Linked DNA regions of Homo sapiens: region 1 is linked to region 2. The links come from fine-mapping of genetic effects on gene expression. A gene starts in region 2. The other region holds a variant in brackets. All regions are shown on one strand. Distances are between the middles of the regions.

What was found.
Region 1: its variant is fine-mapped to the expression of TIGAR in whole blood (INTERVAL, PIP 0.99).

What each region holds. Positions count from the first base shown.
Region 1 is chr12:4,346,399-4,361,520 of GRCh38, forward strand. TIGAR (TP53 induced glycolysis regulatory phosphatase) reads left to right here. Exons shown (of 6, transcript NM_020375.3): 4 at 3,421-3,498; 5 at 4,869-4,979; 6 at 5,862-13,630. The coding sequence ends at 6,293. Among named protein-coding and RNA genes, the nearest start is that of FGF23, 26 kb to the right of the region's middle. The variant A/C (reference allele first, on the strand shown) is at 8,162.
Region 2 is chr12:4,312,435-4,327,556 of GRCh38, forward strand. TIGAR (TP53 induced glycolysis regulatory phosphatase) reads left to right here and starts at 8,779. Exons shown (of 6, transcript NM_020375.3): 1 at 8,779-8,869. The coding sequence starts at 8,838. It also overlaps the pseudogene RPS15P7. RefSeq lists an enhancer at 8,371-9,024 and a silencer at 8,490-8,869.

The DNA of each region.
Region 1 (15,122 bases), 34 kb after region 2:
TATACACCATGGAATACTATGCAGCCATAAAAAAGGATGAGTTCATGTCCTCTGTAGGGACATAGATGAAGCTGGAAACCATCATTCTCAGCAAACCATGGCAAGGACAAAAAACCAAACACCGCGTTTTCTCACTCGTAGGTGGGAATTGAACAATGAGAACACTTGGACACAGGAAGGGGAACATCACACACCAGGGCCTGTTGTGGGATGGGGGGACGGGGGAGGGATAGCATTAGTAGATATACCTAATGTAAATGGCGAGTTAATGGATGCAGCACACCAACATGGCACATGTATACATATGTAACAAACCTGCACGTCGTGCACATGTACCCTAGAACTTAAAGTATAATAAAAAATATATATTAAAAAAAAATGACAAAGAGACATATGAAAAAGTGCTCAACATCATTGGTAATCAGAGAAATGCATATCCAAACTACAATGAGTATTTTACCCCAGTTAAAATGGCTTTTATCCAAAAGACAGGCAATAACACATGCAGGCAAGGCCATGGAGGAAAGGGAACACTTGTATGCTGTTGGTGGGAATGTGAATTAGTACAACCACTGTGAAGAATTGTTTGGAGGGAGGTTCCTCAAAAAACTAAAAATAGAGCTACCATGTGATCCAGAAGTTCCACTGCTAGGTATGTACCCAAAGAAAGGAAATCAGGATATTGAAGAGATATCTGCACTCCCATATTGCAGCACTTTTTACAGTAGCCAAGATTTGGAAATAATCCAAATGTCCATCAGCAGATGAATGGATAAAGGAAATGTACACACACAAACAATGAAGTACTTTTCAACCACAGAGAAGAATGAGATCCTGTCATTTGCAACAACATGGATGGAACTGGAGGTCATTATGTTAAGTGAAGTAAGCCAGGCACAGAAAGACAAACTTGTCATGTTCTCACTTATTTGTTGGAGCAAAAAATTAAAACAATTGAACTCATGGAGATAGAGAGTAGAAGGATGGTTACCAGAGTCTGGGAAAGGTAGTAGGGGGAGGTGTTGGGGAAGTGGGGATGGTTAATGGGTACAAAAAGAAAGAATGAATAAGACCTAGTATTTGATAGCGCAACAGGGTGGCTATAGTCAATAACAATGTAATTGTACATTTGAAAATAACTAAAAGGATATAATTGGATCATTCGTAACAAAAAGGATAAATGCTTATGGGGATGGATACCCTGCTTACCAGGATGTGATTGTCATGCATTGCATGGCTGTATCAAAGTGTCTCATGTGCCCCATAAATATATACATTTACTGTATACCCACAAAAATTAAAAATTAAAATACAAACAGAAAAAAGCCAAAAAATGAAAACCTCAGTGGAAGTACTGAAGTATAGATCACACACGGCTGAAGTGATCATTATAGATAAATATATGATAATAACCTAAATGTAGCACGGCATGATAGATTTAAAATATGAGAGTTTAGCTGGGCACAGTGGCTGATGCCTGAAATTGCAGCACTTTGGGAGGCCGAAGCGGGAAGATCACTTGAGCTCAGGAGTTTGAGACCAGCCTGGGCAACATAGGGAGACCTTGTCTCTACAGAAAATAAAAAAGTTAGCTGAGTGTGGTGGCACTTGCCTGTAGTCCCAGCTACTTGGGAGGCTGGGGTGGGAGGATCACTTGAGCTCAGGTAGTTGAGGCTGCAGTGAATCGTGATTGTGTCACTTCACTCCAGCCTGGGTGACAGAGCGAGACCCTGTCTCAAAAAAAAAAGTCCCTTTAAAAAATAAATAAAATAGGAGACATTAGAAGACATGAAGAGCATGATGAGAAGTTCTAATGTCTTTCAGAAAGAGATAGCAGAGAGAATGGGAGGAAGAGGTGATATTCAGAGGTTACAGAATATTGACAATTTTACAGAATTTACAGAATTGTTGAAAGATCCAAGAAGTGTACCAAATCCCAACCAGGATAAGTAAAGAAACCCATATCTACATTCATTATAGCAAAATTGCAAGACTCCAAAGAATGAGGAAAAAACCATCCTTTATTAAAGACCATTAGTTAGGCTGTCAGCAAATTTGTTCATATTGATGATTTCTTTATTGTGCTGAGAAATAACAAGGATTAACCTAGAGTTTTATACCCAGCAAGATTTTTTTCTGCTGTGTAGGTGAAATGACATTTCAGACAAAGAGATTCTGAAGTAACTTTGAAAGGAAAAATGAAAAAGAAGGAAAATAATTGCAGAAGGGAGATCTGAGTTTCAGAAAAGAATAGTGAGCAAAGAAGTTGGTAAAGGTTTAGGAAAATACAAGGAAATATTGACAGTACATATAAAACAGTATGATGATGATGTCTAATTTGTTGGGAAATGTGTTTTTAAAAAAGGCAGATCATGGACCTAAATTATTTCTATGTGACAGGGTCGCTTGTCAATCAAAAATTGCTAGACTTACAATGAGAGAAGGAAATGTGAATAAAAATGAGCTAAAGACAACAGAAACAGCCACATGACTTACCCGATGGAGTTACCAGACATGAGCTTTAAAATAACTATATTTTTGTATAGGTGAAAGATGTAGAATTTCAGTACAGAACTGTAATAAACTGTAAAAAAGAGCCAAATGCAAATTCTAGAACTAAAAATACAATTGGAATTAAGGCTCAATGGATGGGTTTAACAACAATTTAGACACATTTGAATGGCGAATTAAGGAATTAGAATGGGGATTAGTAAACATTTTCTGTAAAGAGCCAGATAGTAATTTTTTTTTAGGGTTTATAGTCTATACAGTCTCTGTTAACACCTGTTCAAGTCTGCGGTAATAGCAAGAAAGCAGCCATCAACTGTGCATGAATGAATGCTGTGGCTGTGTCCCAGTAAAATACTTTATTTGCAAAAGCAGATGATGGTCTGGATTGTGCTGACTTCTGAACTAAAAGATAGGTTAGAAGAGAATATCAAAATCAGGAATGAAGAGACACAGATGTGTACACAGATGTACACAGAGAGGCAACTTTTGCAAAGGAAAATCATTTCTAGTTTTGTTTTTTTTTTTTGAGATGGAGTCTCATTCTGTCACCCAGGCTGGAGTGCAGTGGCGCAATCTCAGCTCACTGCAACCTCCGCCTCCCAGGTTCAAGCAATTCTTCTGCCTCAGCCTCCCGAGTAGCTGGAACTACAGGTGCGTGCCACCACATCCGGCTAATTTTTTGTATTTTTAGTAGAGATAGGGTTTCACCATGTTGGCCAGGATGGTCTCGATCTCCTGACCTCATGATCCACCCGCCTCAGCCTCCCAAAGTGCTGGGATTACAGGTGTGAGCCACCGTGCCTGGTTCTAGTTCTTTTTTATTCACTAAGATGACATAGATTCTTTCAGTGCTTCCACCAGAATGGTGATTATTTTTATAAAGAAAGAAACAATTGTCTTGATTTTCAGACCATGCATGGAATTTTGGAGAGAAGCAAATTTTGCAAAGATATGACGGTAAAGTATGACTCAAGACTTCGGGAAAGGGTGAGTAACTTATTTACATATTGTTCTTCCCCATAAATTATCAGTAAGCCACCTCAGTTTGTCACTTGGCTAAAAGTTAAATGCATTTCTGCTAGGGATTTCGAATCAGTGAAAATATTTAAGAATCTACCATATGACAGTCACTGTTACATACCCTCGTATATAGGATCTTATTATTAAAATCAAACGAGACAAGCATCTTAAGGTATAAAAGAAGGTACGCTCATAAGAACTTAACACAGTATAGAAGAGTTTAAAGTAAAGGTGAAAAATATGGATATTGCATAATTTATGTAACCTAGCTACGCTGATGGAAAGCTAGATTTTCACTAGACTACCACTGATGTAAATAATGTCAAAATAAACATCTTTGTAGTTAATTTATTGTAGACCTATATATTTCTAGAAATGGACATCGGCGAGTGTGTACTTTTTTAAAGGCATTTATATACATATTGCCAAGTTGCCTTCCAGAAAACCTGTGCCAATTTATAGTCCCATGAATGACCTAGGAGAAAGTTTTGTTTTTTTACACCAACAATTGGTATTATTAGACTCTGTGATTTTCCAATTTAATAGCTTAACAATGTTGCCATGTGGCTGGCGTGGTGGCTTACGCTTGTAATCCCAGCACTTTGGGAGGCCAAGGTGGGCAGATCACTTGAGTTCAGGAGATTGAGACCATTCTGGCTAACATGGTAAAACACCATCTCTACTAAAAATACAAAAAATTAGCCGGGTGTGGTGGCACGCGCCTGTAGTCCCAGCTACTCGGGAGGCTGAGGCAAGAGAATCGTTTGAACCCAGGAGGCGGAGGTTGCAGTGAGCTGAGATCGCGCCACGGCACCCCAGCCTGGGTGACAGAGCGAGATTCCGTCTCAAAAAAAAAAAAAAGAAAAAAAAAGAAATAGATCTCTCATGTTAGCGTCTCTGAAACTCAACTTCCTTATAACTATGGTGATATATTTATTTAGCTATTTCATGGTGCTGTCATTGGGATCAAATGGTGTAGTATGTGTGGATGGGAGATGGCTGAATTGGTACCTTGTGCATGTTAATCTCTAGTCCTATAATCTGTGCAAATCTCTGTATTTGTTCAATAAATTCCCACCATCTGCTTGCAATAGCAAGTTCTTCTAAAATAACCCATTTGGACATAGTGTACAACTTAAGATTTCAATTATATTTTCTAAGGTTCATGGCCCTCTACTGAGTACATTCTCATTATCAGTTCAGAGGAGATAGAATCAATTAAGTGGAGGAGAGTTAGCTTATTCCTGGGATGAATGTTCTAAATTTGCCATAAACATAAACTTAATTGTTATATTGCAATTTCATTTGAGAAACTGTTATCTATTGGACTGTTTCAGAAATACGGGGTTGTAGAAGGCAAAGCGCTAAGTGAGCTGAGGGCCATGGCCAAAGCAGCCAGGGAAGAGTGCCCTGTGTTTACACCGCCCGGAGGAGAGACGCTGGACCAGGTATGTGGCGCTGCCGATGTCAGAATGGTTGAATTAAGACTCAAAATTAGATGTTTTGGAATTTTAGCTAAGCAGTTTGAAAGTTGCTTGGTTCATTCTCTTTTCCATTTTAAATTATCTATTTACTTAGCAAATTATTCTTTTCTATTTAAAATCTTATTTACTGTTCAGTTGCCTTTGTCATTATTGATAATGGACTTAAGGAAAGGTGTTATTAGATGGTACTTCTAAAAAAGACCTTTGAATATGAAGCAGTGGCTTAGTGGTGGGAGTGGAGTTCAAAGAGGGTGATCGGCAAGTCACTCGAGGTGAAATAACTCAAAACATGAAGTCTTCAAGCCTCTGCTGCCTCCTCAGCTCTGTTCATGGTGGCATCCCTGTGCTTGCATTTCTTTGGAGTGTTCTGCTTCGAATTGCATATTGGTGATTCCCCCTAACCCACCACCACCTCCTTAATCTTTATCTTAATTTTCTTGAAAATACTTTCCATTACTTTAGTAAGGGAAGGATTTGTTGCTGCTGTTGTTCCAGTGGCACTGAAGTGCCAGAGACAGCTTCCTGGTTAGCACTGTTTTATGAGTTTCTGTTGGCTTGTAGATTTCCCTAACTAGACCGTGAGTGCTTTGAACTCAGGAATTGGGAATTGGATCTTCTTCATCTTGGTCTCCATGGTGCTTTTGTAATTCCAGAAATGTGGTGGATACTTATATATGTCCATGAAACTACTGATTGAACGAATAGAAATGTAGATTGATATTCTTCTGCTTGTGTAGTACTTGGCATTCAATATTAGAAAAAAATCCAGTCAGTTATGTTCTATGTTAACGTTTTAAGGAAGTCATTAATGTCACTTTATTTTGACTTTTATTTCTTTTCTTGTAGGTGAAAATGCGTGGAATAGACTTTTTTGAATTTCTTTGTCAACTAATCCTGAAAGAAGCGGATCAAAAAGAACAGTTTTCCCAAGGATCTCCAAGCAACTGTCTGGAAACTTCTTTGGCAGAGATATTTCCTTTAGGAAAAAATCACAGCTCTAAAGTTAATTCAGACAGCGGTATTCCAGGATTAGCAGCCAGTGTCTTAGTTGTGAGTCACGGTGCTTACATGAGAAGTCTGTTTGATTATTTTCTGACTGACCTTAAGTGTTCCTTACCAGCCACTCTGAGCAGATCTGAACTTATGTCAGTCACTCCCAATACAGGGATGAGTCTCTTTATCATAAACTTTGAGGAAGGAAGAGAAGTTAAACCAACGGTTCAGTGTATTTGTATGAACCTACAGGATCATCTAAATGGACTGACTGAAACTCGCTAAGGTTAAATCTGCATCAAAATCTAACCATTTTGAGCCTCTGAAGGGAGTGCCATTGGCTTTATTTACTTCTCTCCTCTGCTAGTTCTGATTTGGAAACAGTTAAAAGCCAATTTTTAGCTCCAGTGGAACCATAGCCACATAAAACTTTAATGGACAACCATATAGAATTAACTTATTTTGTCCAAGTACAGTTGGCATTTTCCAGAATAATTTTACCACCCTGCTAGATGTCATCTCTGGATTGCACATGGATGATGAAGGAACTCAGCATTGAAAGTTGGGGGATTAGTAACCTTGTTACAACGGTTTCTTTTTCATTTTAGCCTATTTTAATGGCTATTGGTAAGATACTGTATGTTTTTAGTATCTCATCCAGTGCTTAGAAGAAAGAATGGTTTATAATTCCCAGTACATGTTTATATTGACTGTGTTATATTTTTAAATCCTTTAAATAAAAAATCCTTATAAGTTTATGTAAAGCAAAATAACACTAACATGTTTTACGTATAAATCAACTATTGGAATTTTTTATTCTAGAGGGCTTGAAATGTGGATGAATACAGATTATGATTGCAGAATGGTCTGGGGGAAGAAGTTAAAACATTTGATTTAAATACAGTAAAGAAAGAATCTTGGAGCAGAAGATAGAAGAACAGCCTTTTCTAAATAATGCCTTGCCAAAGTCAAGTCAATGGAAACCAGGAAAGCCAAAAAAATGAAGAATATCCACTTGCTTCTTATCTAACCTGTAGGCTGAAGAATTTCCAGTTTGAGGAAGGCTCTAAAGAAAGTAAACAGTTAACAGAACACCACACAGTAATCAGAATAAAAGAGGGGCCTTCTTTGTAAAGAATGGTGCTCTGGGCCGGGCCCAGTGGCTCACACCTGTAATCCCAGCACTTTGGGAGGCTGAGGCGGGCGGATCACAAGGTCAGGAATTCTAGACCAGCCTGGCCAACAATGGTGAAACCCTGTCTCTACTACAAATACAAAAAAGCCAGGCGTGGTAGCAGGCGCCTGTAATCCCAGCTACTTGGGAGGTTGAGGCAGGAGAATCGCTTGAACCCGGGAGGTGGAGGTTGCAGTGAGCCGAGATCGCACCACTTCACTCCAGCCTAGGTGACAGAGGGGATGACAGAGGGTGCTCTGCGGGCAGGGAAGGCGGGGTGGTTGGGGGGGAGAGAATGTTGCTCTGATAACCACAGCTGTGGTTATTTTGTGGCAGGTACAGGTGAGGTTGCCTCTTCTTTCCACCAGATGGCACTGGAGAAAAGGGATTTTGATTAACTTAATTTTATACACAAGATTGGTCTTTCAGAAATCTTTATCTAAATGAAGAAACTGTTCTACATGTAGTTCGCTTTTAAGTCACCATGTTGCTAAATGCTGTGAGTCTCAACTTTAAAGAGGGTTAATACTAAAGTTGTCAGTTAAGGCTATAGTCACATATAGTCAAAATTTACTTTGACATCATTTTAAATCATATGTAAAATTCAGTATTATATTGTTCTTAGTGTGTCTAGCACTACCAGTTTTCTACCAGTATTGAAACAGGGCACGTGTTTGAGCATCAGAGGAAGTATACTGTAAATAAAAATTTGAAAAATAAGCAAAAAGGACAGACAATAATTATCTCCATTCCCACCATACTGAAGTCATCTTTCCACTTTTTTTTTTAAAGAAACAAAACATAAAGATAAAAGTAGAGTTCTCTTTAACCAGCTCTCACAGTCCTGTTCCCTCCAGAGGCAGCCACTGCAGTGAGTCTGTGTATATGTTCACCTGTTCATCTGCTTGCAATGTTCATCTGTTCCTTATATTTTCACCTAGTGTCTGGAAGGAGATGGTACTGTTTTGGTGCTTTAAAA[A/C]TAAATATCAAGCCATCTGTGTTCTTTATTTTTACTTATGTCTTGGAGGCATCTCTGTGTTGATATATATAGATCTAGTTAATTATAACCACTCTATTCTATTAAATATAGCACATTTTTGTTTATTAGTGGGCATTTAGGTATATTCAGTTTTTATTTTCTTTGCTTTTTTTCTTTTTTTTTTTTTTTGGAGACAGAGTCTCTCTCTGTTGCCCAGGCTGGGGTGCAATGGCGTGATCTTGGCTCACTGCAACCTCCACCTCTCGGGTTCAAGCAATTCTTGTGCCTCAGCCTCCTGAGTAGCTGGGACTACAGGCATGCACCACCACGCCTGGCCTTTTTTTTTTTTTTAGTAGAGACGGGGTTTCGCCATGTTGGCCAGGCTGGTCTTGAACTTCTGACCTCAGGTGATCCACCTGCCTTGGCCTTCCAAAGTGCTGGGATTGCAGGCATAAGCCACCGTGCCTGGCCTATGATGCATTTTTTTAATATGTGTTCTTAATTTTTAAGACAAACCAATATACCTTATCCTTTATGGGGTTTTTTTGGTGTGTATCTTTAAGAAGACTTCTCTACCATGAGGTCATACAGTAATGTCTTCTTACAGTTTTTGAGAACTTCTGAATGTCAAATCTTGAAATTGAAATTTGCTTTTTATAGTATAAGGTAAGAATTTAATTTTTTTTTTCATGTGGTTGAAACAGTTATCCCAACACCATTGTAAAGGCTGTTCTTTCCCAATTGGTTTGTGGTGTGTGCTCTCAGGCCTCACACCCCCTCATTTGCTAGAGTCTGTGGACTCTTTTAGTTATCTGTGTATTTCCTTATCAGTGTCATACTTAGTTACTGTGGCTTTGCAGCTGACTGTCTTAAAGGGTGGATACCTCCTCTTGTTCATTTTTAAAGTTGTCTTAACTATTTATGCACTTTTATTCTTCCATATAAATTTTGGAATCAATTGGTCAATTTCCAGAAAAATTCTGTTACAAATTTTATTGGAGTCACATGCATCTCTTCATCTATTCAATACGTATTTTTTGAGCATGGCACACACATGCCAGGCTATTTTAAGAACTACTACAACTATGATAAAGCTGTGAATATGTAGCCATGAACCAAAACAAAGTCTCTGTCCTTGTGGAACATTTGTTCTGTCAGAGAAGACAGTGTGTTGGCTCACATTGTGGTCAGTGCTGTTGAGCAAAATAGGTCAGAGTAAGGGGGATGGAGACTGGTGGGAGGAATGCTGCTTTATCCAGGATGGGCAGGGAGGACTCGATGGTGTCAGCACTGAAGGATGTAAGATCTGCTGCTCTGGGGAGAGGAGCAGCATGGAAGGAGTAGAGTGCAGAGGCCATGAGGAAGGATCAGGCTTGACTCCTTTGAGCAAGGGGGATGGGAGAGTGACGGGAGAAGAGGACAGGCCACATGGCCTGGTGGCCTGTGCTGAGGCCTTGGGCTTTTACTCAAGTGAGATGAGATGCCATTGGCCAGTTTGGGCAGTGATGTGATCAGACTTGTTTCAGCAGGACCATCCTGCTTGCAATGTGGAGAGCAGGCTGTAGGGGGTGCTATAGGAGCACAAGGTTGGAGGCAGGGAAGATGGCAGCACTGGCTGTTGGGCCATTTGAAGAAGCAAGGCCAGGGATGTTGGCAGGGACCAGGCCAGAGTGCCTCCAATGGCTAACTAAGGAGCCTGGACATTGAATTTCTAGGTTAGCTTAGGATTTCTCATCCTCCCATCTGTGAATGTCATAGATCTCTCATTTTGCCTGAGTCTTTTATGCAATGATATTTTATTTGTAATATTTTCCCGGTTTTTGATTGTTTTTTAACAAATGAATTTTTTAAGAGACTTAATTTTTTAAGAGAAACTTTAATTTCCCAGCAAAAGTGAGAGGAAGGTAGAGAGATTTCCCATCTATCCCCTGCCCCTACACACGCATTGCTTCTCCTACTATCAACATCCCCCACCAGACCAGTGCATCTGTTACCATCGGTGAGCCCACATTACACTGACATATCCACATCACCTGAAACCCATAGTTTACATTAGGGTTCATTCTTGGTGTTGCATGATCTGTGGGTTTGGACAAACGTATGAAGACATGTATTCCACCATTATAGTATCATGCAGAGTATTTTCACTGCCCTAAAAGTCCTCTGTGTTCCCTGTACTCATCTTTCCCACCTTGTCTTGCCTGTTTCTGTTAGGTTTAGTCCGAGGCCTAGCAGAGGGAATGGGCAGAAGTTTCCAGTTCCAGGCTTCACCCCAGGCTCGCAGCTTCAAGCAGAGCCTGTCGCTTAGGCTCCCTTGCACCTGGAGTCGAAACCATGGCTCCCATTCACCTGTCTCTTATTTTCCTGTCCTTCCCACTCCTCACTCACCTACTATTCATTTCCATTTTTGGATGAGGATTCTCCTTTATTGCTTTTTAACTAAAAACCTGTTTTAGTTAGCATCTTTATTCTAATTTCTTTAAATGCTATGTCATACTCAGCAAGGACATGCTCATATTAGGGGAAGCACATAAAGTAAGATATCCCTGAGAGAACAGTGCATCTCACACCCATTCCATGGCTTAGGCTTATGCAGGAAGTGCAATATTTGGCCATATCACTTAAGTACATATGCTTATATTATGTATACTTGCATGCATATTACATTTACAAGTAGATGAATTCGTGTAAGTTAAATGGTTCTATTATATGTCTTCACTATATTAAGGTCAGTCACAATTTAATTGAAATAGATCATCCTAGGTGAATCCACCTGGCATAATTATCAGCCCTGTTAAGCACAGACACAGGAGATGCAAAGGAAAGAAGTATTCAGTAGAGCGGTGGTGCTGGGCTGAGTACCTGCTATCAGACGCAGCACTTACCAGTTTGGAAATTGAATGGGGCTCCTAGAAAACATCCTTGTTTCATGTAAATGTTGCTTTTTACCCCTCTTTCTTTGGGCCCCATCAATTTGGAAGTACAGCTTTCAGATTGAAGTATGTGTCAGTTCCTTTGTGTCCAAACAAGATGGCTAAGTAGGTCGTCATGACAGGTAACTACCAGTGCTTTAAAAACTTTAGGATTTCCCCCCACAGTTCTCAATCACTTGGTTCATTGTTCAGCAATATGGCCTAAGGGGGTGATTTCTTCATTGATAAGTGACAGGGCAGGGACACTGGAAAGATCTATTGTCAGAAGGCCTGGATTCAGGTTCAAGGCCTGGTTCTTAGTAATTTTGTGACCAAGCAATCGCTGAGGTGGCTGGGCGTGGTGGCTCGCACCTGTAATCCCAGCACTTTGGGAGGCCAAGGCGGGCAGATCACGAGGTCAGGAGATAGAGACCATCCTGGCTAACACAGTGAAACCTCGTCTCCACTGAAAAATAGAAAAAATTAGCCAGGCCTGGTGGCCGGCGCCTGTAGTCCCAGCTACTTGGGAGGCTGAGGCAGTAGAATGGCGTGAACCCGGGAGGTGGAGCTTGCAGTGAGCCAAGGTCGCGCCACTGCACTGCAGCCTGGGTGACAGAGCAAGACTGGGTCTCAAAAAAAAAAAAAAAAAATCATTTGATAAATAATGGGCTGTGCATGGTGACTCAGGCCTGTAATCCCAGCACTTTGGGAGGCCAAGGTGGGTGGATTACCTGAGGTCAGGAGTTCAAGACCAGCCTGGCCAACATGGTGAAACCCTGTCTTTACTAAAAATACAAAAATTAGCTGGGCGTCTCCAAAAAAAAAAAAAAAGAAAAAGAAAAATCACTGAGCTACTGTATCCTCATAGAGAATAATTACAGTAATGTGTATGTGCGTGTGTTTTGGTAATCTTTTATCTTGGATTTATCAAACCTACAGAAAAGTTGCAAGAACAGTAGAAGGAATGGCTGTATACTCTTCACACTTATTCACCACTTGCTTACCTGTTGTCCCACTTGCTTTGCCATTTTTTCTCTCTCCCTCTGTTTTCCCCTGAAACATTGGAGAGTAACTTTGAGTCCTCATACTCTTCCCCTATAAAATTTCAATGTGTGTTTCCTGAGATCAACAATGTTCTTATATATAACCCAGAATAAATATCTGAGTCAGGAAATTTGACATTGATATTGCCTATTAGCTAATCCTTAGACCAAATTTAAATTCTGTCAATTATTTTGTTGATGTACCTGTGGCTTTTTTTTTTTTTCTGAATCAAGAATCCAATCAATCCAGGACTGTGTGTTGTGTTGCATTTAGTTGTCATGTTTCTTCATGTCCTTCCGTCTACTCCTTTGCCTTCCTTTGCCCTTCTTTTTTTCTCCCACCATCTATCTAACCAGATGAACTTTGTCTTTCTTGATCTTGTTACTTTTTAAAAAATAGGTGAGTTCTTGTGGTTTTTTTTCCTGACATATCCTCATTATTAGATTTGGATTGTATACTTTTGTCAGAAGCAGCCCAGAAAGGATGTGTCCTTGGTCATGTCAGGAGGGACAGGACGTTGTATCAATATGTCTGGTTCCTCATTAAATTTGCAACTACTCTTTTAGCCTTTATTGTTTATTTTCTGACTCTGTTTTTTTTTTCTTTAGCCAACTCACGCCATGACTCTACTTTTGCTTCTATGTTTATTAGTTGGCATTCTGTACTAAGACAGCTTTACCCTTCTTGCCTACTTATTTATGTCAGTATGAGCTCAGAAGTTCTTATTCAGGGGCTTATAATACAGTACTCTTATTATTTTATGGTTACACAGTCCCAACTTTGTCCTGTGGGAACCCTTTCAGGCTGGCTCTTATGTTCTGGTGACATAATCTCATCCTTCTTTAAGTACTTTCTTTCTGGTATTAACAATATGCTCCAGACTCATTCTTCCCGAGCCCCAGCCCCAGAATCAGCTTTTTCTCTAAAGAGCCCTGGTTCTTTGGAAATGAAATGAAAGACGCCTGGTGTGCATGGTATTTAGAAACCAAGATCTCGGTGCCAGGGTGCTCATTGCTAATAGTGCCTTTAAAAAAATTACTGCATTGAATTCCAATGCATAGATACACAACAGTTTGTTTATTCTTCCATTGACGGAACACAAGGACCATTTCTAGTTTGGAGCTATTATGAATAAAGCTGCTATAAATATTTTTACAAGTCTTTTTGCGGACGTATGTTTTCATTTCTCTTGGGTAAATAATCTGGGAGTGGAATTGCTGAGTTATAGGTTATATGTTGGTGTATGTTTAGTTTTATAAGACACTTGCCAGATCTTTTTCCATGGTGGTTGTACCATTTCATGCTTATCAACAATGAGTTCTAGGTGCTTCACATCCTTGCCAACATTTGTTATTATCAGTTTCTAAAATTTTAGCCATTCTGATTGTTGTATGGTAGTATATCCCTGCAATTTTAACTGGTGATATGGAATGCTTTTTAATGTACAATTCTTATTGATCATTCATACAGCTTTCTTTGTGAAATGTGTATTAAAATCTTATCCATTAAAAAATTGTGTCATCTTTTTATTTTTGAGTTGTAGGAGTTCTTTATATGTTTTGGGTATACAAGTTCTTTGTCAGATGTGTGTGTGTGTATGTATGTGTGTATGTGTGTGTGTGTGTGTGTATATATACACATGTATCTACATATATATAATTTTATTCCAGTCTGTATATTTATTATAAAATATGTTATTCTACCATTTATCAATTTTTTTAAGTTGTTGATTTTCATAAGACTGATTTACCATTGTGTTTGTTTTATGATTATTGCTTTTTTTTTGTCAAAGAAATTTTTGTCTATCCCCTGGTCATGGAGACTCTGTTTTCTTCTAGAAGATTTGTGATTTATAAGTTTTATATTTAGGTCTTGATCCATCTGGAATTTTTGTGTGTGGTATGAGGTAGCAGGTTCAGGCTTATGGTTATTTACCTGGATATCAAATTGTTCTAGCAGCATTTGTTGAAAAGACTTTTCTTTTCCCTTGAATTTATTTGGTTCTTTTGTCATAATTCAACTTATTGTGTAAGTGTTGGTGTATTGCTGGGCTCCTTATTTAATTCCATTTATCTTTTTGTCTATCCATATGCAAATATCACACTGTCCTGATTATTCTACATTCATAGCAAGTCTTGAAATCAGTGTATAAGTCACCTATGTACTTGTTCTTTTTCAGGGTGGTGGTTGTTGTTTTGGCTCATTGCAGGTCCTTTGTATTTCCACATAAATTTTTTAAAAATATACTTTTTAGAGCAGTTTTTAGATTTATAGAAAAATTGAGACAATATGTAGAATTCCCATACACCTGCATCCAGTGTCCTCTGTTATTAACATCTTATGTTAATGAATTGATACTGACACATTATTAACCAAAGCCCATAGTTTATTCAGATTTCCTTAGTTTTCACCTAATGGCATGTTTCTATTCCAGAATCCCATCCAGGATACCACATTATGCTTACTTGTCATGTCTTCTTAGGTTCCTTGTGTGTGTGTGTGTGTGTATACATTTCATTACCCTTGCTTTTTTAATGTGGAAAGTATACATAGCAGCATTTACCAAATCAACTATTTTTAAGTAGACAATTCCGTGGCATTAAGTCCATTCACACTGTTGTGCAACTACCCTTGCTTTTTTAAAAAATTGACACATAATTGTACATATTTATGGGGTATAGAGTGATGTTTTGATAAATGTATACAACATGTAATGATCAAATTAGGGTAATTGGCATATCCATCACCTCAAACGTTGCTCATTTCTTTGTGTTGGGAACATTCAAAATCCTCTTTTCTAGCTATTTGAAAATGTGCAATGAAGTATTGCTAACCATAGTCACCATACAGTGCAAGAGAACACTAGAACTTATTCCTTCTATCTCACTATAATTTGGAGCCCATGAATCAGCCTCTCCCTGTCCGTGTTCTCCTCCCCTTTCCAGCTCCTGGTAACCACTGTTCTCTCTCCTTCTATTGGATCAACTTTGTTAGCTCCCACATAT
Region 2 (15,122 bases):
TCACAAAAACCACAGTTCTCAGTTGGTCCCAAACACTCTCAGTCTGTACTATCTGATGTCAGTTTTGTCTGTCCATTTTTATTCTGAAACTTAAAATCCTCTTGTCTCTATTCTAGTAAGTCTTAATAATATACGTATATTTTTAGACAGAGTCTTGCTCTGTCACCCAGTCTGGAGTGCAGTGGCACGATCTTGGCTCACTGTAACCTCCACCTTCCAGGTTCAAACAATTCTCCTGCCTCGGCCTCCGAAGTAGCTGGGACTATCATGCACAGCTAATTTTGTATTTTTAGTAGAGACAGGGGTTCGCCATGTTGGCCAGGTTGGTCTTAAACTCCTGACCTCAAGTGATCTGCCCGCCTTGGCCTCCCAAAGTGTGCCGGGATTACAGGCATGAGCCACTGCACCCTGCCTCTATTCTGGTAAGTCTTAAAGAGCTTTATCTTAGAATCATAAAGTGACCTAATTAAAAATAAACAGAACAAATACCAGGAACATACTACCCCTCAACTAAGGTTTTTTTTAAAAAAAAAATTCTCAGCTGTATTCTATTACATAGTAAAAATAGTAAGTTGCCTTGCTTTAGTATGTGTGAGTAGCCACATAGAACAGTTTATATGTTCTCCATCACCCACCCTCTGGATAATTTTCTTTGTGAAAGACACCTTGCTTATTTGTATGCATGTGTCTCAGGAAATAAATTCTTTAGTAATAGAGCAGAACAAGCATTTTTAACATGATAACTACCAACTAGAGAAACTCTTGACATAAATTACACATTTTTTCTTGTCTTTTAAAAATATGTATGTATTTTTTCTTAAAAATCAGGCTCATAAACGAATGGCTTTCTACTCTTTTTTCATGTAATCTCCTATCAGGGGAATGTTATCATACCATTAAATATTCTGTAAGAACATGATTTCTAGGGCTGGATACGGTGGCTCACATCTGTAATCCCAGCATTTTGGGAGGCCCAGGCAGGAGGATCACCTTAGGTCAGGAGTTTGAGACCAGCCTGGCCAACATGGTGAAACCCGATCTCTACTAAAAATACAAAAATCAGCTGGGCGTGGTGGCACATGCCTGTAATCCCAGCTATGTGGGAGCTGAGGCAGGAGAGTTGCTTGAACCCTGGAGGCGGAGGTTGCAGTAAGCTGAGATGGCGCCACTGCACCCCAGCCTGGGTGACAGAGAAGACTCCGTCTCAAAAAAAAAAAAAAAAAAAAAAAAGAAACAAACCAAAAAAAAAAAAAGAAAAAAAACCATAGATTCTAATGAATTGTTTGGGCTCCTACAATATATCTAGTACTACTTGAGGTGCTGAAGACACAGAAGGGAACAAGCCAGTCCCCACGGTCAAGGAATATATATCCTGCTGAAGAAAGACAAGCAATGAACCTACAAAAATGTTCATAAATGATATAATTTCAGAATAAAATCGGATGATGGATAGTGACTGGGCAGCCTACTTTGCTTGAGGGAAGACCTCTTGAGAGTGGGACTTCTGAGTTGATACCTGAAGGCTGAGAAGGAGGCAGCCATGCAAATATCTTGGGAAAGAGCTCTGTGAGCAGAAGGAACAGAGAATGCAAAGATCCGGAGGTAGGAATGAGCATGACGTGGTCTACGAACAGAGAGAAGCCCTGACGGCTGGAGCTGGATGAGGAGGGGCAGCGAAGAGAGAATTGTAACTGGAGGGCCAAGAGGGGCCATGCCACATAGGCCTTGCAGGAGTTGGGACTTCATTCTAACTGCAATGAGAATTCAATAGAGAATTCTCCAGCAAGGGAGTGACACAATAGGGACATCTCTTCAATGGCTGAGTACCAGAGTAGAGGCAGCAGAGCTATGCCAACAGGCTATCACAGTAATCCAGACGAGAGGTGATGAAGGCTCAGCCTGGGACACAGTGAGACTCCAGAAGTGGTGGATTCAGGACATAATTTGGTGATAGACCCCATAAACTTTTTTTAAAGGTTTTGGATAGATAGCTTTTATCATTTATTTATTATTGAAGATATGTACGACACAATAAATAAGCTTGCTTCAGACGTATATATAGAACTCTGTATCCAATAATGAGTGAATCCACATTCTTCACAAGGACACACGAAACATTTCTGTGAAATGCCTGTGGACTAGTCCACAAAGCAAGTCTCTGTAAATTTCAAAAATGTATACCCTTGAAAATCTCTGAAGTCCTGGAGATTTAAGTCTGCAACTATCTTAGTCTTACTACCAAGAATAGCCCCTAAGGAAAAAAAAAAACCCTTTCAATAAAAAAAAGATAAACAAGAATAATATAAATTTCACAGACTCCAGCTAACCAGCTTTTGGTCACAATGTAATTAATTTCACTCTTAATGCATTGCTGAAAATATTTAAATGCCTGGGGAACTGGCTCCAACCCACAATCTCCTCCCCTACCCTACATTCCAAATAGATCAGGCATTTTACACTTGGCTCATCTTCGGTGAAGACAGTAATTAATCTTTATTTGAAAACAAGATTTGGGAGGCAGACGCAGGCAGATCACCTGAGGTCAGGCGTTTGAGACCAGCCTGGCCAACATGGTGAAACCCCATTTCTACTAAAAATATAGAAAAATTAGCTGGGCGTGGTGGCGGGTACCTGTAATCCCAGCTACTCAGGAGCCTGGGGCAGAAGAATCGCTTGAACCTGGGAGGTGGAGGTTTCAGTGAGCTGAGATCACGCCACTGCACTCCAGCCTGGGTGACGGAGCAAGACTCTGTCTTAAAAAAAAAAAAAAAAAAAAAAAAAAAAAGCAAGAAAACGAGTAAAATCCAGCACTCACTGCATTATTGAGCCTACAGAAATCTATGATGAATTTGACAGGGAATATTAGGATAGGTAAAGAATCAAGGGTTTCATGAGCAGTCAAGTGGAGGGTGTTACCATTTACTGAGATGAGAAAGACTTGAAGACCAGCTGTTTTTAGGGGTAAAAATGGAAGGTTCTGTGTGGACAAAGTTAGCCTGAGATGTCAACTATAGACCCAAGCGTAGATGTTGAGTAGGCAACTATAACAGATAAACGAATGAGGAGCTCAAGGGAAAGGCCAGGCTGGGGATATAACTAAGATCTATACACTGGATTAGATCATCTAGCTGACTGCACAGTTGAGTAGAGAAGAGAGCCAAGGGCAGAATCCTCAATACTCCAACATGCACAGGGTTTATGGGATTGTCTACCCCCCAACAATTCATGTGTACCTCACGTTTCCCATCACCTCTGCAATTTGGTAGGGCCACGTGAGTGGCTCTGGACAATGAATGAAGGAAGCATCTAAGGACTGGTTCAAGACCCTCAACTATTCTCATCTCCTGCCTCAAAAATCGTGAATTCTTATGTTTCTGAAGTTAACATGTCTGTCAACCCTAGGTCCTGAATGAGTATGTGGCTTTAAGACCCTTTCTGATCCACGTCAGACATATAGCATGAAAGAAAAACAAACACTTGTGTGTGAAGCCATGGAAATTCCAGAGTTAATTTGTTACCTCGGCATAACGTGGCCTAATCCAGAATGCCATCATATGATGCGCTTCAACAAAGCACCATTTTTCATTTTTTTAAAAAGGCGTTATGTGATTTGAGAGGCTGTCAACAAAATATATTGGTGGATGGCTGGGTGTGGTCGTTCATGCCTGTAATCCCAGCACTTTGGGAGGCCGAGGCAAGCAGATCACTTGAGGTTAGGAGTTCGAGAACAGCCTTACCAACATGGTGAAACCCTATCTCTACTAAAAATACAAAAATTAGCCAGACATGGTGGTGCAGGCCTGTAGTCCCAGTTACTCGGGAGGCTGAGGCAGGGGAATTGCTATTCAGGAGGCTGAGGTAGGGGAATTGCTTGAACCCGGGAGGCGGGAGGCGGGAGGCAGGAGGATCACTTTAGCCTGGGAGGCAGAGGTTGTAGTGAGCTGAGAGCACACCACTGCACTCCAGCCTGGGGCAATGGGAGTGAAACCCTGTCTCAAAAAAAAAAAACAAACATATATACACATATTTTTTATATATGTATTTATATACGTATACACACACATACACACAAATACATGTATATACATATATACATATATGTACACACATCCTGCTTATAAAATGAACAAGGAGTTCACGTAAACTAATTCAGATAGAACCTGGAAATATATATATAGGGGTATTTCTGGCTTCTCTCTGAATATATATGGATACACACACACACACACACACACATATATACACATACATACATATATGGGTGTTTCTAGCTTCTATCTGAAATACAGTTTAAGTGAACTCCCTGTTCATTTTATAAGTGGAAGGGCAATCCCTGAACCACTGAGTGAATAATGCAGGACAATGTCCACTATTTTGAAGACACCTCATTTTTCAACCTGGTTTTTGCCCCTGATTAGTTTTTCGTTGCTGTTTTTTTTTTTGTTTTTTTGTTTTGTAGCCGTGGTCTCGCTCTGTCGCCAGGCTGAAGTGCAGTGGCACGATCTCGGCTCACTGCAACCTCTGCCTCCCGGGTTCAAGCGATTCTTCTGCCTCAGCCTCCTGAGTAGCTGGGACTACAGGTGCACACCACCACTCCCAGCTAATTTTTGTATTTTTGGTAGAGACGGGGTTTGCCCATATTGGCCAGGATGGTCTTGATCTCTTGACCTAGTGATCTGCCTGCCTTAGCCTCCCAAAGTGCTGGGATTACAGGCATGAGCCACCGCGCCTGGCCCCTGATTCTTAAAATTTATGAAGAATTGTTTTTTAATTTATTCCTTAGATAATTAAAAGAAATAACATTGGTGGATGCCTTGCAACTTTCTAAATTTCTCCTAAAACAATAATCCTCTCCAATATGTCAGCTTTTTTAAATATGTATGCTTCATTAGACAAACTGATCATAACAGGTATTCTTCATTCATTTGACAGATTTTAATGGAATCTCCACTGTGTTCCAAACATTTTCTTAGGAACCAAGGAAGTAATGAAATAGAGCCAGTAGTTACCCTCATGATTTATAGTTTTGAAACCTGGAGTATACTTATCTGGTCTCAAACTCAGTTCTGAGATCTTGAGAGATGGGAAATTAGTTTTTGTTTGTTTGTTTGTTTTTGGAGATGAAGTCTCACTCTGTCGCCCAGGCTGGAGTGCAGTGGCATGATCTTGGCTCTGCAACCTCTGCCTCCCGGGTTCAAGCAATTCCCCTGCCTCAGCCTCCCGAATAGCTGGGATTACAGGCACCTACCACCACGCCCGGCTACTTTTTGTGTTTTAGTGGAGGAGGGGTTTCACCATGTTGGCCAGGCTGGTCTCCAACTCCTGAGCTCAAGTGATCCGCCCGCCTCGGCCTCCCAAAGTGCTGGGATTACAGGCGTGAGCCACTGTGCCTGGCCCAAGAAATGGGAAATTAGTTAACCTGTATGTGCCTTAATTCTTCATCTGTGAAATGGAAATAACTCCTACCTTGCAGAGTTACTGTGTGTATTAAATAAGACAAAATGGGAAGCTGTTTTTATTTAGGCGTTAGAAATGCACTTGGACCACCTTAAAGTGAAAGAGGTTTTACTATACAAACCGGAACTTTCAAGGTATCTGGGACTATGGCAGTTTGAGCGACCAGTGACTGGGTACTCCTTGCATTACTCACTTGTGTCTGTGTCTCTCTGTGTGTCTCTTTGCTTCTTCCATTGACTTTGCTTCTTCGTACCCTCTCCTCTGTTCTCTCACTTGTATTATTTATGGCTTCTGTTTCTTCACAGCTTCAATCACCATGCCCCTTCATAGCCCTAACTCTATCCTATGATTTCTTTCTGTGCTTTCTTTCTGCTTCACCCCTCACAGATAACTACTTAATTTCATTTTTTCAGCTCAAACTTCCAGGAGAATCTGCTGGGATGATTCATTCATTTGGGCATTCAGAACACGGACACGGACACACACACACACACACACACACACACACACACACACACACACACACACACACGATATCTGGGCCCCACTGTTAGGGCCCTCTGAATTATCCCTCCACTCTCATCCTGAAAATGCCTCCTGTTGACCTGCAAGCTGTTAGAGATGCTGAATTTGGTCCCCACTCCAATCTACTAACTCCAGAATCTACATTTTAACACTATGCCCAACTGCTTTGTGTGCACGTTCGAGTTTGTGAAGCATTGCTTTAAACTGCTAGCTCTCAGAACAGCCACTTGTATGTTGGAAACAGCTGGGGATTAAAAGCATACAGATACTGCTGCCTGAGTCTTTCCCCCAGAAGTTCAGATTTGATTTTTCTGGGGTGTAGCCTGGCAAAGGTCTCCAGACGATTCTAATGTAAAGATAGGTTTGAGGACCTCTAAACTAGTTCTGTGTCACCGCTGACCAGTTGTGTGAGCCTAGACAAATCGCTGTCTCTCTCTCGGCCATATTTCTTTTTTTTTTTTTTTGAGATGGGGTCTTGCTCTGTCACCCAGGCTGGAGTGCAGTGTTGGAATCTCGGCTCACTGCAACCTCTGCCTCCCGGGTTCAAACGATTCTCCTGCCTCAGCCTCCCTAGTAGCTGCGACTACAGGCACGTGCCACCATGCCCGGCTAATTTTTTGTATTTTTAGTAGAGATGGGGTTTCACCGTGTTAGCCAAAATGGTCTCTATCTCCTGACCTGCAGATTCTCCTGACCTGCCTTGGCCTCCCAAAGTGCTGGGATTACAGGCGTGAGCCACCATGCCCGGCCATATTTCTCATCTCTAAAGTGAAGATAATGTAGCCTATCCTGTCTACCTTAGAATTGTTCAGAAGGCCAAATGTGATATTACATGTAAGACTGTTTTGAAATGTGTGCCTATGAATCTAAGTATCTCATTCATCTCTTCTCTAAACACATCTTTTCATATATAAGTGGGGATTCAAGGAAATAAATGCATTATGAAATACAAGAATTTAGGTAACAGTGCATGGAAGACAATGTCACCTAGCTAACATTATTGTTACTTGTGTCACATTGCTAGGTACTGCTATCCCAGTTTACCTGTCACAAAACCCAGGGTTAGAGAAGCTCATGTTATAAATAAACTTTCAGTGCCACAAAAGAAATAGCACTCGAATATAAAATTTTCTTTTTAATTCTCAGCAAGGCAAGGTACTTCTATAGAAGGGTGCGTCCTTACAGATGGAGCAATGGTGAGCGCACACTTGGACAAGGGAGGGGAAGGGGTTCTTATCCCTGACGCACGTGGCCCCTGCTGCTGTGTAGTGCCCCACCGCACAGGCTAAACTAATTCCGATTGGCTAATCTAAAGAGAGTGATGGGGGTGAGTGGTTTGGCGGGAAAAACAGTTATGACAGAGCAGGTAATCTGAGTCAGGGTGGCGTAGGTAATGGGAAGGAGTCAGGGTGGAGTAGGTAATGGGAAGGAGTCAGGGTGGAGTAGGTAATGGGAAGGAGTCAGAGTGCAGCAGGTAATCGAAAAAGGTTGTGGCCGGGCGCGGTGGCTCACGCCTGTAATCCCACCACTTTGGGAGGTCGAGGCGGGCGGATCACGAGGTCAGGAGATCGAGACCATCCTGGCTAACACGGTGAAACCCTGTCTCTACTAAAAATACAAAAAATTAGCCGGGCGTGGTGGCAGGCGCCTGTAGTCCCAGCTACTCGGGAGGCTGAGCCAGAATGGCGTGAACCCGGGAGGCGGAGCTTGCAGTGAGCCGAGATCACACCACTGCACTCCAGCCTGGGTGACAGAGCCAGACTCCATCTCAAAAAAATAAATAAATAAATAAAAAAGAGAAGGTTGCTTTAGGAGGAAGTTAAGTTTAAAAGTAAAAAGCAAAGAATTGAACATACTGACATATTGATTCTTTGAAAAGAAATTTAGAACTCATATCTAACATGAAGCAACTCCCTCAACGTTCTGAAGGCTATTAAAGAGAAATTATTCATCTGAGGCTTGTTAAAAACGGCAAGACTTTACTCAAGACTACTGCAATAGGTGAGAGAGACTGAATTCGACTCTAGAATACAACCGGGACCAGTGGAGATTTATAGCCAGGGGGCGGGATGGAAGGGATGAAAGAGAAGATGGGAAATTACCAGAACGTGGTAAGCTATCTGGGGGAGGGGGAGGAGGAACTTTACTAGATATCAAGGGCCTTAGAAGAGAGCATCAACAGTGAGGTCTCTCTTGATAAACAGGCTTAGCAGGATTCTTTGGTAAAACCAGGCTCAGCAGGCCGAGGATGCCGTCTAGTATAGAAAAGGCCTCAAAGGAGCCCGACTAAAGTTTGGTCACGGAGGGCGTCTGTCCCGGCGGAGTTGGGGTGGGTGGGTCTAAGTCTACAGACCTGGCCGACGCTACGTCCCTAAGGTTAGGGACTAACAGACCTCATAGAACACAGTCTGTTGGTCGCTGTACACCCGTGAGGGGTTCATCACAGTGGCCAGCTATAAGACGAACGGTTGCATTCCAGCCTCAATCGCAACAACCACAAATCAGTGCGCCGGCTTCCTTATCTGCCCCGAACGCAGGCTGCCGGCTATCGAGGGAAGGAATCCTACCGCGGACTCCGCGGGCGGGGCCTCCCGCACCTGCCGCGCGCCAATCACAGGCCGGCGCGCAGGGGCGCAAGCGCCGCAGCCCTGGGCGGGGCCCCCGTGGCTCCCTCGTCTCCCCCGCCCCGTCGGCCTCGCCCGGCCCTGAGTGGCCTTCGGGGATGACGTGCGAGGCCGCCTCGGCCTATGGCGGCGGAGCCGGCCGGCTGCTTGGCGGAAGTGGTGTGGGGGAGGTAGCCCGCAGTGCAGGGGCAGCGCGGCGCGGGGCCACCGACGGGACGCGGCTCCGGGAACATGGCTCGCTTCGCTCTGACTGTTGTCCGGCAGTGAGTATGGCTGTGGCAGGATGTCTTTCTCTCTCTCTTCCTTGAGTGTGTTGGAGCGGGTGAAGGGAAAACGGGTCCACCACCCTCTCCCCTCCCTGCTCGCTCCAGCCCGGGAGGGCTGGCTTGGAAGCGCTTTTTCCGGGGCGCTTGCCCTGGGGCCGTCCCGTGTCGCCCCTCCTCTCACCCCAGCAGCCCCGAGGGACGACGGCAGGTCTTAGATAGCTTCGTTCCGTGTTTCAGATAAAGTGAGGCCCGGAGGAGCAAGGGATCGGGGTTCGTAGGCACTTGGTGGCTGCACCAAAAACGGTGCCAGACATGTCCACAGACTTGTCTGGGTACCGATTTTGCTCCCCAGCAGATTGCAAAGAGTTTGCAGAATTGCTCGTCCATGGCTGATGTTTTTGATGCCGGCTGCCTTCCGCTATCCTCTCAGTTTCTGAGGTTCCCCCTCGTTTCCCCAGGCAGTCAGCCCCCCAGGCACATATATGAGACTTCTTTCTTTTCCCCAGAGGTTACAGTTCTGGGAGAGAAAAGAGGATCACAGCTCTGATCTCAGCAGACCGTATCATCCCAAATAAATGTTTTTATTATCATAACGTTACACGGAGCTGCATGCTGATAGGTCTTTATGTATTTGCCAAGTGTTAACGGGAGGTGAAAATCAGGGTAGTTAAGAGCACAGATTTTTATTTTTATTTTTTTTTTTTTGTGAGATGGAGCCTCGCTCTGTCACCCAGGCTGGAGTGCAGTGGCGCTATCTCTGCTCACTGCAACCTCCCGCCTCCGGGGTTCAAGCGATTCTCCTGCTTCAGCCTCCCGAGTAGCTGGGATTACAGGCATGCGCCACCACGCCCGGCTAATTTTTGTATTTTTAGTAGAGACAGGGTTTCGCCATGTTGGTCAGGCAGGTCTGGAACTCCTGACCTTAAGTGATCCGACTACCTCGGCCTCGCAAAGTGTTGGGATTACAGGCATGAGCCACCGCGCCCTGCTAAGAGCACAGATTTTTCAGGCAAGGTAGACCTCGGTTGGAGTCTGTTCTCCAGCTAAGAGCCAGGTAGCCTGGACTTAAGTTTCCTGATATGCAAATGATAGTGCGTATCTCACTACTTTAATGCGAGAATTAAATGGGGGACAGGTAAAGTGTATGATGCAACAGGGAAAGAAATATATCTGAGAAATAACTTCTATAAAGAAAGCTCCAATAAAAGTGCAGTTGATTCCCAAATACGAACGTATAGTTCAGCACACCAGCATTTTGAGTAGGTAATGTGTGCCAGTAGACTGGATCATACAGATAAATAACATACCATTTCTGCATTCATGGAGCTCACAAAGGACATTAATATGATTTAACTTTGTCAATTGACTTTAACAGCTATCTTTTCTGGCCTGTCCTTCCTTTATAAGAAAGATAATCTTAAGAATCCTCTAAAATTGTCTGTTTAGGATTAGCAGGATTTTAATGGCTACCTTAGAAATCTAGTTCCTCACTATCTCTTCTCCCACCCCTCTCGGTTGTATAGAATGCCTTGGGAGAATTCTTAACTTACTAAAGGTCACACAGCTAATCGGTAGCAGAACAGGAACTAGAGGCCTGATCACCCTTTCTTCCAATGTTAGTGCACTTTCTAGACGCCTGACCCAGCCAGCCCAGTGTCATATTTATAATTGAAACTCAGACCATCAAGGTGGTTCACCCCTGTAATCCTAGCACGTTGGGGGGCGGAAGTGGGTGGATCCCTTGAGCACAGGAGTTCAAGACCAGCCTGGGCAACATGGTGAAACCTCCTCTCTACAAAAAAAAAAAAAAAAAGCTGGCTGTGGTGGTGCATGCCTGTGAACCTAGCTAATAGGGAGGCTGAGGCAGGAAGATCACTTGGATCATGTGAGCCTGGGAAGTGAGGGCTGTAGTGAGCTGTGATTGGGCCACTGCACCCCAGCCTAAGCGACACAGTGGGACCCTGTCTCAAAAAGAAAAAAAAGAAAACTCAGAAGTTGTAGAATATTTGGGGTAAGGCAACCCCTAAAAAGTAAGATGATTCCTATTTAGATTCCTAATAGACAATAGTCATATAAATATGGATTTTATTCCCTTTCTGCTGCTTAAAAAGGGTTTGATTCCGGAGGCCCTCATAGGAATCATTTAAAAAATAAGTCTTAATAAATGATTATTTGCCAGGCACTGTTGTAATTAAAATCTGACAGTTTAGTGAGTTAAGGACTGATATCCTCATTTTTCACATGAGGCAGCTGAGACAGAGACGCCTTGTAACTTGCTTAAAGTCACATGGCAAGTTGAGGAAGTAGGAGTTTAACCAAAGCAACTTTACCACTCACCGTCTTTTGTTTCCTACTTAATTTGTTAAAACCCGGTATTTGTAGATTACTTGAACATCACCAGCCATTTTTGAGGCTACTTTTTAGTCTCTTAATATAATTGTGTGGAGTTATGACAATAGTTTATTTTGTTCTGTTTTATGTGTAGGAAGATGGAGTGAGAGGGCTGGTTCAATGCTTTCCGGTCTGGATCCTCCTGCTTCTTGCCTTCAGAGTTCTCAAAACCAAAACCTGGTGATTCTTTCAGGAAAAGAAGTGATTTTTAAATTTGACTCATTATCACCATAGTTAAATGTAATGACTTTTTGAAGAGTTAGATAATTTTATTGGACTTACCTCTTCAGATAATGCAAAAAAATCTTTAAAGCAATTTAAGTTCAACAGAACCTGTTAGGAATCTTGTGCTGTTCCTGTATGTGGTTTATCTTTCTTCATACTTTGAAATGAAAGTACCAGTGTGTATCATTTCTGGAACAGACTGCCCAAGATTCCAGAATTCAAGTCTATCATCATTGTCAGACTATAACTTCTCATGAGCTTATGGCACAGCATTGTTGAAAACTCCAACACGTGTAGGTTGGCATTACCATCACCTATCCAGCACTACTGAAGGGTCTGGTTCCTTGGAATGTTGTAGGTGTTTGCAGTGAGTCCCCGGCAAAACCATCCATTTAACTTCCTTTTTTTTTTTTTTTTTGGAAATATGTGTGCCTTTATTAGCTGAGCCACTACTTGAGGGGGATGAAGCGGGAGGAGTGGGTGGCCCCGATGCCGGGCCGGCAGTGCTTCACCAGCTTATAGGTGATGGAGAACTCGCCCAGGTAGTGACTGATCATCTCCGGCTTGATCTCCACCTGGTTGAAGGTCTTGCCGTTGTAGACGCCCACCATGCTGCCCACCATCTTGGGCAGGATGATCATGTCCCGCAGGTGCGTCTTCACCACTTCCGGCTTCTCCATGGGCGGTGCCTCCTTCTTGGCCTTGCGCAGGCGCTTCAGCAGCGAGTTCTGTTTCCGCCGCAGGCCCGGGTTCACTTGCGGCCGCTGGCACGCACTGTACAGCTGCGTCAGCTGCTCGCAGGACACGTCCCGTCCCGCAGCTGGTCCAAGTCTGTGCCGCGGTAGGTGAGTTTGCGGAAGGTCCGCTTCTTCTGCTCTACCTCGGCCATCTTGTCGGATCCTCAGAAAAGTTCACTTCCATTTTTAGGCAGCTCGTAAAGCTTTAAAATTTTTTGGCAAACTAAATTTAATATACTTTTAATGATTTAAAAATGAATTAGTAAAGTTTTTTTGTTTTTGCTTTTTTTTTTTTTTGACGAAACGGAGTTTCACTCTTGTCACCCAGGTTGGAGTGCAATGGCATGATCTCCGCTCGCCACAACCTCCGCCTCCCGGGTTCAAGCGATTCTCCTGCTTCAGCCTCCGGAGTAGCTGGGATTACAGGCATGTGCCACCATGCCTGGCTACTTTTGTACTTTTAGTAGAGATGGGGTTTCTCCATTTTGGTCAGGCTGGTCTCGAACTCCCGACCTCTGGTGATCCGCCTGCCTCGGCCTCCCAAAGTGTTGGGATTACAGGCGTGAGCCACCCCACCTGGCCGAATTAGTAAAGTTACTGATAGCAAAACTGATTTTTCTTACTGTACTTTTATTGGCAGTTACTTTTTGTGTAATGCTAATAATTGTTCTGTATATTAATAAAGCAAGCAAAATACTATTAGCTCATCTGTAATTTAGTATTTTTATAAAGCTAATACTTTTATAAAATTTTAATGCTCTATAAAAGTATAAAGATACCTTGTACAGATACTTTATAAAGATCAAAGACAGCCGAAAGTCCTGCAATCCCAGCACTTTGGGAGGCCGAGGCGGGTGGATCACCTGAGGCCGGGAGTTCAAGACCAGCCTGGTCAACATGGTGAAACCCCGTCTCTACTAAAAATACAAAAAATTAGCTGGGCGTAGTGGCACTCGCCTGTAATCCCAGCTACTCGGGAGGCTGAGGCAGGAGAATCTCTTGAACCCGGGAGGTAGAGGTTGCAGTGAGCCCAGATTGCGCCGTTGCACTCCAGCCTGGGCAACAAGAGTAAAACTCGTCTCAAAAAAAAAAAAAAAAAAGAAAGACCACCAAAAGTCTTGTGTTACTAGCTCTTGAAATCTTCTATATTTGCAAATGAATGTATTAGTGTAAAGGAATTAGGACTAAGCTGTATTCGTGATATCAGGTGAGGGTTTACATTTTCATTTACACTAAAGAACAGCTTTCCCATGATTTGTTCCTCCTTTGTAGCACGCTGAGTATTGTGTGTTGAATTTGAATTCCTTAAATGGAATTAAGGGAAATTGAGGTTTCTGTATGATTTTTGAAGAAATGCTGCAGCGTATAAATCCAGGCTAACAAGATATAATGTCTTTTAAGAACTGTGAGATAACCTACAAAATGAATGATGTATATTTGTAGGGCCTATAAATGGCTGATCCTAAGACTTAACATCTTGGCAGAAGCACTCGGATTCCTGCAGAGTCAGGTTTCTGTTTTGGAAATGGACCACACTGCAGATTTTGAAAATGAGTGGTGTTATTCCTGACTCCTTCAAAATATATCCCTCTGACCTTTCAGCTCCGTTCACCTTCTCTGCTGCTATCACAAGTCAGACTTGGTTAAGGGAAATAGATTAATAGTAAAACTGTTTTAGCCATCAAGTTTCCTTTCCCATTCCCCAAACGTACTAATTAAACAGTTACTTCAAGGATTTATATAAACCTCTTAATAAAGCTGATAAAAGCTGTACAACTAAATATTTATGAAAGCTTTTGGAAAAAAATCTATTTTTGGATTCCTACTCTTTAATATTTATAAAGTGATTTGAACGCAAAAATGCCAAATAGAACTAAACTGAATGCTGTGATTGTTAATAATACTATTGAGTCTACAGCAGCCTCTGTTGATATATGGCTAAATGAGTCCTTCATTATATCACAGTGGTTATGCTGCTTTCACTGAAAATCGTTAGATGGTGGGGCAGTACTTTTATGAAACTATCAAATTTCTGGGATTCCATTTTTTATAAAATGACATTTTGACAGTGTAAACCTTTATTTTAATTTGAATCTTTCATTATCTACTTTGATTAAATAAAAATGCTGAGTTACTCTTCAGCAAGTATACAAAAAGTAATCATCTCTGCCAAATTTCTGTGATTTGTAAATTCTGAGTTTTTTTGGTGGCTCTTGCATGATTTCTTGGTTGGCAAATTATTAAATTTCTTCTCACCCCTCATTTCAAAATGAGGGTGCTTCTTTGGCTTTGGCTGGAAATTGTGTTAGCAACCTATAAAAAGAAAAACTTTAGACAAATTAGACTTAGTTTATTTGAGCAAAGAAATGAATCATAAATCAGGCAGCACCTGAACCAGTAAAGCTTCAGAGTGCTCACCCAGTGACATAGGCAGGCAGTATTTATAGACAGAGAAAGGAAGTGACATGGCCAGGCGCAGTAGCTCGCACCTATAATCCCAGCACTTTGGGAGGCCGAGGCAGGAGGATCACCTTAGGTCAGGAGTTAGAGACCAGCCTGGCCAACATGGTGAAACCATGTCTCTACTAAACATACAAAAATTAGCTGAGCGTGGTGGCGCTTGCCTGTAATCCCAGCTATTTGAGAGGCTGAAGCAGGAGAATCGCTTGAATCCTGGAGTTGGAGATTGCAGTGAGCCGAGATCACACCACTGCACTCCAGCCTGGGCTGCAGAGTGAGACCCCATCTCAGAAAAAAAAAAAAAAAAAGAAAGAAAGGATGTGACATATAGAGATAGCCTGATTGGATACAGCTCTGCTTTGCCTTATTAGGACATGTCTGAGCAGTTTGCAGCCCATAATTGGCTGAAAGCTCAGCTGCCATGCATGGTTGGCTGA